2 separate regions of the Homo sapiens genome follow, and region 2 is linked to region 1. The links come from fine-mapping of genetic effects on gene expression. A gene starts in region 1. The other region holds a variant in brackets. All regions are shown on one strand. Distances are between the middles of the regions.

Region 1 (4,401 bases):
AGACCAAAGTCTCAGTATATTCCTATTGTCTGAATTCTAGACAATATTCTCTAACTTCAATGTAATACAATTTAAAATTAATAGAGTTGACTGAAAAAAAGATTAGTGTGTCTGAAATCTAAGAAAAAGCAAAACAAAACAAAATCTACTACCAGGTAGACCGTGGGTAAAATAGAAAACAAAAGGAGGAATTGCAGCAGACTTCTTGCTTAATGACAATGAAAGCCATTTATGTCAGCATTTGTGGGATGTAGCTAACACAGTTCTCAGAGGACAGTTTATAGCTTTGAATATATTCTCAAAATAAAGATTGAAAATTAATAAGCTAAGTGGTTATTTAAAGATGGTAGAAAAAGGAAAATAGAGCAAGCCTCCCCAAATAAGAAATATGGCAATATGAAGAGGCATAAATCGATAAAATGGAGATGAGTATAACAATAAACAAATACAGATCTTAACACACAAAAGTCAGACTTTTTAGATGACTACTAAATAACCCTCTCTGGTAACAGTTTTTTTCAAAAAACAGGGAAAAAGGGAGATGAAATAAAGAATACGGAATAAATATAGGGACAAGTTAAATAATATCAGTCATATTCTAATATATTTGCAAACCTAGAAAAAACAATGTTTATAAAAAATGTTAAAATGTACATAAACTTGTATTATTTAAAGAAATTAAAGTGATAATCAATTCGCTCCTACTCCAAAATGACACGCATAGAGGGTTTTAGAGATGAGGTAAGGAATATGCAGTTGTTATACATGTTGTCCCAAAAAGTCAAAAATGACGAAGTCTGGACAGATTATTTTGTGAGGCTAGTATAATTCTTTTTTTTTTTTTTTTTTTGAGATGGAGTCTCACTCTGTTGCCCAGGCTGGAGTGCAGTGGGACAATCTCAGCTCACTGACACCTCTGCCTCCCAGCTTCTAGCAATTCTCCTGCCTCAGCCTCCCGAGTAGCTGAGATTACACATGCACACCGTCACGCCCGGCTAATTTTTTGTATTTTAGTAGAGATGGGGTTTTGCCGTGTTGCCCAGACTGGTCTCAAACTCTTGAGCTCAGATAATCCACCTGCCTTGGCTTCCCAAGGTGCTAGGATTACAGGGGTGAGCCACCGCGCCTGGCTGAGGCTAGTATAATTCTAACAGCCAAGTCACACGAAACAAGTACATGACAAAAATAATAGCACAAGTCAGCTTCTAAACTTAATTTTTTAAATCTTCAATAAAATACATCCTATTTATTTCTGAAAGTATATTAAAATGACCATGACTCAAGGATGGCTTAAAATAAGAAAACCCAGCAATATAACTTCTTTTTAATAGACTAATAAAGTTTAAGGTTGCAATAGTAATAGAGAAAGCATGCAGTAAATTTCAACATGGAGAGATGAGGATGGTTAATGGGTACAAAAAATATTAATAGTTAGAAAGAATGTATAAGGTCTAGTATTTGACAGCACAACAGAGTGACTATGGTCAATAATAATTTAATTATACATTTAAAAATAGCCAAAAGAGTATAATTGGATTGTTTGTAACACAAAGGATAAATACTTGAGGGGATGGATGAACCATTTTATACGATGTGATTATTTCACATTGCATACCTGTATCAAAACATCTCATGTTCCCCATAAAAATATACACCTACTATATACCCATACAAGTTAAAATTAAAAATTAAAAAATTAAAAAAGCCAAAAATAAGTTCAACATCCATTTCTGGAAAAAAAAACTTTAGAAAACTAGACTATAAAGGAATTTCCGTAATCTGATAAAGTTTATCTATCAAAATTCATTGAAAACATCATTTTAATGAATACGCTTTACAAGATTTTAGAACTATTTTTTTTCAGGTCAGGACAAAGAAAAGAATTATCACCATAACAACCATTATTCAAAACATCTGGGGCTGCACGGTGGCTCATGCCTGTAATCCCAGCAGTTTGGGAGGTCAACATGGGTGAATCACTTGAGGTCAGAAGTTTGGGACCAGCCCAGCCAATGTGGTGAGACCCCGTCTCTACTAAAAATATAAAAATTAGCTGTTAGTGGTGGCACACACCTGTAATCCCAGCTACTAGGGAGGCTGAAGCAGGAGAATTGCCTGAACCAGGAAGGCTAACGTTGCAGTGAGATGAGATCATGCCAATGCACTTCAGCCTGGGTGACAAAGTCAGTGAGACTCTGTCTCAAAACAAAAACAAAAACAAAAACAAAAAAAAAATTTGGAAAACAATAAGAGAATAAAAATCAATAACACTACTAATGTGCACCTACTAAAGCAAATTTCTATTCAAAAGTATAAGATAATTTGAATTGTCAAATTTTCTACCTTGTGGCTGGGTCCGGTGGCTCACGCCTATAATCCCAGCACTTTGGGAGGCTGAGGCTGGCAGATCACCTGAGTCAGGAGTTCAAGCCCAGTCTGACCAACATGGTGAAACTTCGCCTCTACTAAAAAAAAATACAAAAATACTTAGCCAGGTGTAGTAGTGGCACCTGTAATCCCAACTACTTGGGAGGCTGAGGCAGGACAATAGCTTGAACCCAGGAGATGGGGGTTGCAGTTAGCTAAGATCATGCCACTGCACTGCAGCCTGGGCAACAGAGTGAGACTCCGTCTCAAAAAAAGAGAGAAAAAAAAATTCTACCTTGAATTATCAATTAAACTGGGATTATCTCTTAGCTAACTTAATAAAGACTACACAGGATCTTTATGAAAAATGTTAAATTTTATTCTAGGACATAAAAGGAGGCCTACATAAGGATCATGCCCAGGGTTGGGGTAATTCAACATTAGAATGTTATCAATATTTCTCAAACTAAGTTGAAAATTAATGCAATTCCAATTAAATTTCAAGGTTTTTTTTAAAAAATAGATTCTAAAATATGTATGGATAAATAAAGGTCTGTAGATATTAAATAATATTTTGAAAGAGAAGAGCACGAAGATTCTTCCTGCCAGGTATTAAGAAATATTAAAAAGCAGTAGTAATTAGGATAGTATGGCAATAAAATAGGGGCAGGACTGAAGACAAAGGTAGCAGATCAGAATACTCATGTGGACTCCCGGGTGCCTCCAGGAACTTGGCATATTACAAAAATGGCATCACGAATCAATGAGAGAAAGAACTGATTATTTGGTAAATAACCTCACTCTATGGCAAATTAAAATTTAATTGCTACTTCCCTTCAAATAAAAAATAAACTCTATATGCAATAAGAATCAAATGTGAAAGTTAAAAGTATAGAATTAATGAAGAAAGTGTAAATAATATCTTTATGACTTTGGAATAGGAAAGGATTTCTTAATCAAGACTCCAAAACATAAACTCTAAAGAGAAAAACCAATGACTTAGCTCGGGCATCAAAATTAAACATTGATTCTCAAAGGTGACCAAGTTAACAGGCAGGGGACACACAGCCACTCCAAGAGGTGAGTACTACCCTTACTCCCACTTTACAGATGAGGACAATGAGGTTAATTAACTTGTCCAAAGTCCCACAGCTAGTTAAGTATAGGGCTGAGATTGGAACCCCGATAACCCGGCTGAATCCAGTCTGTGCCCTTAACTACAGTTACACAGCCTTCTAGGATTTTTCTTGCTGATGTCAAAGGAAGAGAGAATGTCAGGGAAGAAAGGGTCAATGATGTCAGAATACTGCAAAGACAGCAAGGAGAGGCTACTGAATTGAATACTCCAGTGATTTCTGAAAACATCATTTCAGGGAGGGGCAAAGGTGAAGGCTATAATGGGGTTGTAGGGAAATGACCAGCCAGTGGGAAAACTCAACCTTGTAAACTCTAACTCTAGAAAGTTTGAAAAGGAATCATCTTTCTTCTTAATATGAGCCACTGTAGTGTTTTGGGGTTTGCATTGTAATAGTATATTTTAAAAATTTTTTGGATAATGCTATTGATTGTGAACAATACAACGCTTATAAAATTCATGATCCTTACTCTCTAGAACAGATTCTCCACAAATTCAGGGTGTCTGGCGAGTTATGGCCAAAGCCATTCTCAATAAATTAGTTTTCAAACTAGCATCTCCAACTAATATTTTCCACAATGTGCAACCCCCATTCTTCTTTGCAGTAAGGCGTTGGAATGAAACCATACTCTGTTTGTTCTCTAGCTCACATTATGACCTGCTATAAAAAGAATTAATATTCATAAATCTTTTTTACTGCACTAATCTCAGTGTTTTAAAGTGGTGATTACCACCTGACATGGGGGCAGGCCAAAGACTAAAGGAATCTTCAGAGAGCACAAGACCCTATTCCCTCATGAGTGTTCAAAGAGGAAAGTGATGGAAGGATTCACATGTTGAACCTGGGCATAAACATGAACATTTTGAGGAGGCTTTCTATAAGTTTTCTAGATACCTTG
Region 2 (4,401 bases), 72 kb after region 1:
TCTAACCCTTAGTTGCCTCATAGATAAGATGAAGAAGATATTTCCGCTTTTCATTACCACAAAATAGGATGTGTGTGTGTCAATATATTGTATTAGTCCATTCTCACACTACTAATAAAGACATGCCTGAGACTCAGTAATTTATAAAGAAAAGAGGTTTAATTAACTCAAATTTCTGCATGGCTGGGGAGGCCTCAGGAAACTTGCAGTCATGATGGAAGCCACCTCTTCACAGGGCTGTAGGAGAGAGAATGAGTGCCAGCAGGGGAAAAATGCTAGGCACTTAAGAAACCACCAGATCTCATGAGACTCACACACTATCATGTGAACAGCATGGGGAAACCACACCCATGATTCAATTACCTCCCACCGGGTCCCTCCCACAACACATGGCAATGATAGGAACTACAATTCAAGATGAAATTTGGGTGGGGACACTGCCAAACCATATAACATATCTAGAAGCTCATATGGGCCATAACAGGCATTCTAGAAAGCTCTTTCTGAATGATTCTCCCTGAAGTCTTGTAGTTCTGTGGCAGTGCCTTTAAGTACGCCACCATAGAAAAGGGAAGTTTTGGTCAATTTTTGTAAATTCCATGTGTGTGACAAGAATGAGTGGTCTCTGTTAAGTACAAAGATTGTATACAAACATACACATATCAGGCGAATTACTGTGGAAGTCAAATCCAATTTATCTTTGTTTAATTTTGATCTCCTTGATGGACTGGTTTTTGAGAAAGTTCTGGACCGTTTCCCACACTGACTCTTCACTCAACCATTTATCCTCATGTTTCTGTCATATCTTTACACAGCAAATCCCAGCTAGTCCTCTCCTAAGTACACTATTCTGTTCCCAAGTCCTCTGGTGCCTGAAGCTTTCTCATTATCATGAGAGCAAAATAATGTGAGTGTTAAGGCCCACAAAGCAATAAAGCATGATTGTGAAGAGCAGAAGCTTTGCAGACAGACCCAAGTTCAAACCTTGGCACCATCACTTCCCAGCTTATGAACTTGGGAGGCTAACTGACTTTCTCTGAGCCTCAGAGTTCCTGTCTGTAAAATGGGAAAATTAACACCGGAAGTTAGGGTGGATTCAATGAGACCACGCATGTAAAGCAGTTATCACAGAGCTGGGGAGAGGAACCGGTAAGGATTTAGTAAATGCTAATTTTGTTAGTAACAATAGACAACATCTGCATGGCAGCAGATCTTCACCTTCCTGAGAGTGCTTAATATGTTCTGGGCACTAAGCCAAGTGCTTCAGTTGTATCAGCACATTTAATCCTCACAGCAAACCCATAAGAGTGATAGGACGGACATCACCATTTTACAGAGGAGGCCACTGGGGCACAGAGGGATGAGGCAGCCCACCCAAGGTCACCAGTGAGCGGTTGCTCCTGAACTGCACCTCCATCATGGGAGCATGGGAGCCTGGGCTCATCTTCTGATGACAAAGTCGGTCATGGAACTAACAAGAAGACACACCACAAAAAGGGACTCTTTGTCCCACATCCCTTTCTGTGACCTCCCAGAAGTGCCCCGCAGCACCAGACTCCACTCTGGGTGGCTACTGTGGTTCTTCTTTTGTGTCTGGGAAAAAAGGGTGCTCGATAGGATCCAGCTGCCAGCTCACTACAGCCCAGCCCTCCTCCGGTACTCCCAGAACAGCTCTTGGGTCTAGGACAACAAAGCCCTTATTGGTCTCATTGTTGCAAGTGTAGTTGGAAACATCTGAGATAAAGCTGGGATGGAAAACCGAGCAAACTGTTAAAATCTGCACAATAAAAAGGCACAATCAGGACACACTTAGGGATAACATGTTACACTTCCAAAAATTAACACTGTTGGATGAAAGCCCCAGCTTCCCAGTTTTAGTTCATTTTAGAAAAAAAATCTACAATACATAAATATACTCCCACTGTAAAAAAATAAAAAACAAAAGCCAAACAATCAATAAGTATGAGGAATAAAATGAGAATGTTGACCATTATGCCTCCGTCCACCCTGAACCCACAGCTTCCAGTGGTAACCATGATCAATAGAGTAGATATACCTCCTCCCAAGCTTTTTCCTTTGTAATAAATGCATATATATGTACACATAAACATGTTTCATTTGGAAAATATTGTGTTTCCACACAAATGGTGTCACAATATGTGCATTGTCTGCAAACTAGCTTTGCTTATTTTATTCACTTAACAATAGGTTTGGGGAGTGGGACTTGGGGAGAAATAGGTTTGGAAAATTTTGCCAAGTCTGTGCACACTTAAATTGACGTTATTCTTCATGAATGACCGAAGTGTTTCCCATGGTGTGGTGCTACCATAATAATTTATTTAACCTTGTCCTTCTGAATGGACATTTGGGTTGTCATGGGGGCAAGCTCT[A/C]AGATGACCCCCTCCCCATGATCTCTACCTCCTGGTATTCATGCCCCTGTGAAATCCCTTGCCCTTGAGAGTGGGCTGGCCTCATGACTTTCTTCTAATCAATAGAATGGAGCAAAAGTGATAAGATGTCACTACTGTGACTAGAGTACAAGACATTGTAACTTGCCTCTTGCTAACAGACTCTTCTCTTGCTGGTTTACAGAAGGGCCCATGTGGCAAGGAACTAAGGGCAGTCTCTGGCCAAAAGCCCACAAGTAACTGAATTCTGCCAATAACCATGAGTTTGGAAGTGGATCCTTCCCCATTCGAGTCTCAGATGAGTCCCCAGCCCTGGCCAACATCTTCATGTGCTGTGAGAGACCATTAAGCAGAGGACCCAGCTAAGCTCTGCCCAGATGCTCAATCCACAGAAAAAGATACTAAGTGTGTGTTGTTTTAAGCTGCTACATTTGCAGTGGTTTGATATGCAGCAATAGATAACTGATACTGCTGTTAATTGCTTTCTATTACAATCAGCTGGAATAACTGCCCTTGTGCCTACAATCAGAGATGTATTTTGGGATCAATTCCCAGACCTGAGATTGTTCAGTCTAAGGGTAAGGATATTTAATGTGGAAAAATAACACTAAATTGTCCTCCAAAAATATTATCAAGTGACAATCATGCAAACAGTATGAAAGTTCCTACTTCTCTCCATGTTCTTGCCAAATGAAGTGTCATTGATCATTGAAAAAATATCAGTTTGAGAAAAATCAGTACTGCATTGCTTTGATTGCATTTTCCTGATCACTTATCAGGGTGAGCATCTTTTTAACGAATCCCTTGGCCATTTATTTTCCTCTTTCTTTTGAGACTTCTCTCTTGATATTTTTAGCTTTTATCCTATTTTAATTGGATTTCAATTGGATTGAACAACTAGAATGATAGAATGATATCTGGGGGGCACACAATGGCCATTGGTGATGCTGCTGTTGATTACCCAAAGTGCTATCCCATTTCTTCCTGTGTATTTACTACTATTTCTCTTGCAGTTAATAAGCAATTTATGGGAAGATTCTTTGAGACCATTCAAATATCCTGCACCTCATTAAAATATCCCCCTGGATTTAGCAGCCTTTGATGATTCTTGCCTGAACAAAACTTTATTATGGTAGATGTAAAATGAAGATTTTCATTTCTAGCACTTCTTCCACATTTACCAGCTACATTCAGCCTTCTTGTGGATAAGACTCTCCCCTTTCTCCCAAATGTTTATTGTTTTTATTAGTATGGACTCACGATTTCCTGTTCTTCTCAATGGCCTATAATTTATTACTATCTTTAATTATATTAGTGCTCAAATTTTCCCAGTTTGGCCAGTGGGATCCCCTCCAAGTTGGCTATTATTTCCTTGTGACATACCCACTTTTTCTTTCTTTCTCTTTCTTTTTCTTTCCTTTTAAAACTCACTTCTTTACTTCCTGCTCCAGCCCTGGAATCAGCCATTTCTCTGAAAAACTGTGGTTCTTTCAAGTGGACAAAGGTATTAGAGACCAAAATTTGGGCACAAGATATGCACTTTAACAAGGACCCACTTTAAGTGCAGTTTAGTGAATTTGAATGAATGCATGAACTTCTGTAACTACTACCACAATCAAGATATAGAGTTTCTGTCACCTCTCAAAGCCTCCTTTTCTTGCTTGCTCATATGCAATTACCTCTGTCCAAAATGACCCTTTCCCTTTCCTCTACACACTTGGCAAAGCCATGATTGAACATTTATTCCTTCTTAGATTTTGTTCCATTTTCCTCAGCAAAGGTTCTTTGTTTCCTCTTCTTCATGCTCACAAAAGAGAGAGTAAAAGTGCTTGCTCAACAGTTCTTCAACTGCTCTAATAAAGATTGATTCTCTTACCAGTTTTGTGTCCTTGGGAGTTAATCAGCCTCTCTCTCTGTCCATTGATTTTCCATCTGTAAAATGGGTCACTCTTGAACTGGTCCCATATCCAACACATGTAAACCTGTCAATGTA

Alleles and levels. Positions count from the first base shown, and alleles are read on the strand shown. Sizes are in standard deviations (SD) of each study's normalised expression.
As copies of A replace C in region 2, the expression in skin of the gene that starts at base 1,904 in region 1 goes up (small effect, 0.38 SD a copy in TwinsUK).

Evidence for each region. PIP is the estimated chance that this variant, and not a neighbour inherited with it, causes the effect. A credible set is the group of variants that fine-mapping cannot tell apart.
Region 2: its variant is the best candidate, but not a certain one, in a credible set for the expression of LINC02030 in skin (TwinsUK, PIP 0.76).

What each region holds. Positions count from the first base shown.
Region 1 is chr3:55,224,952-55,229,352 of GRCh38, forward strand. LINC02030 (long intergenic non-protein coding RNA 2030) reads left to right here and starts at 1,904. Exons shown (of 6, transcript NR_183750.1): 1 at 1,904-2,017. The region is part of intron 2 of LOC124906243 (a long non-coding RNA gene); the gene reads right to left.
Region 2 is chr3:55,296,662-55,301,062 of GRCh38, forward strand. LINC02030 (long intergenic non-protein coding RNA 2030) reads left to right here. Exons shown (of 6, transcript NR_183750.1): 6 at 2,593-4,286. The region is part of intron 1 of LOC124906243 (a long non-coding RNA gene); the gene reads right to left. Among named protein-coding and RNA genes, the nearest start is that of LINC02030, 72 kb to the left of the region's middle. The variant A/C (reference allele first, on the strand shown) is at 2,391.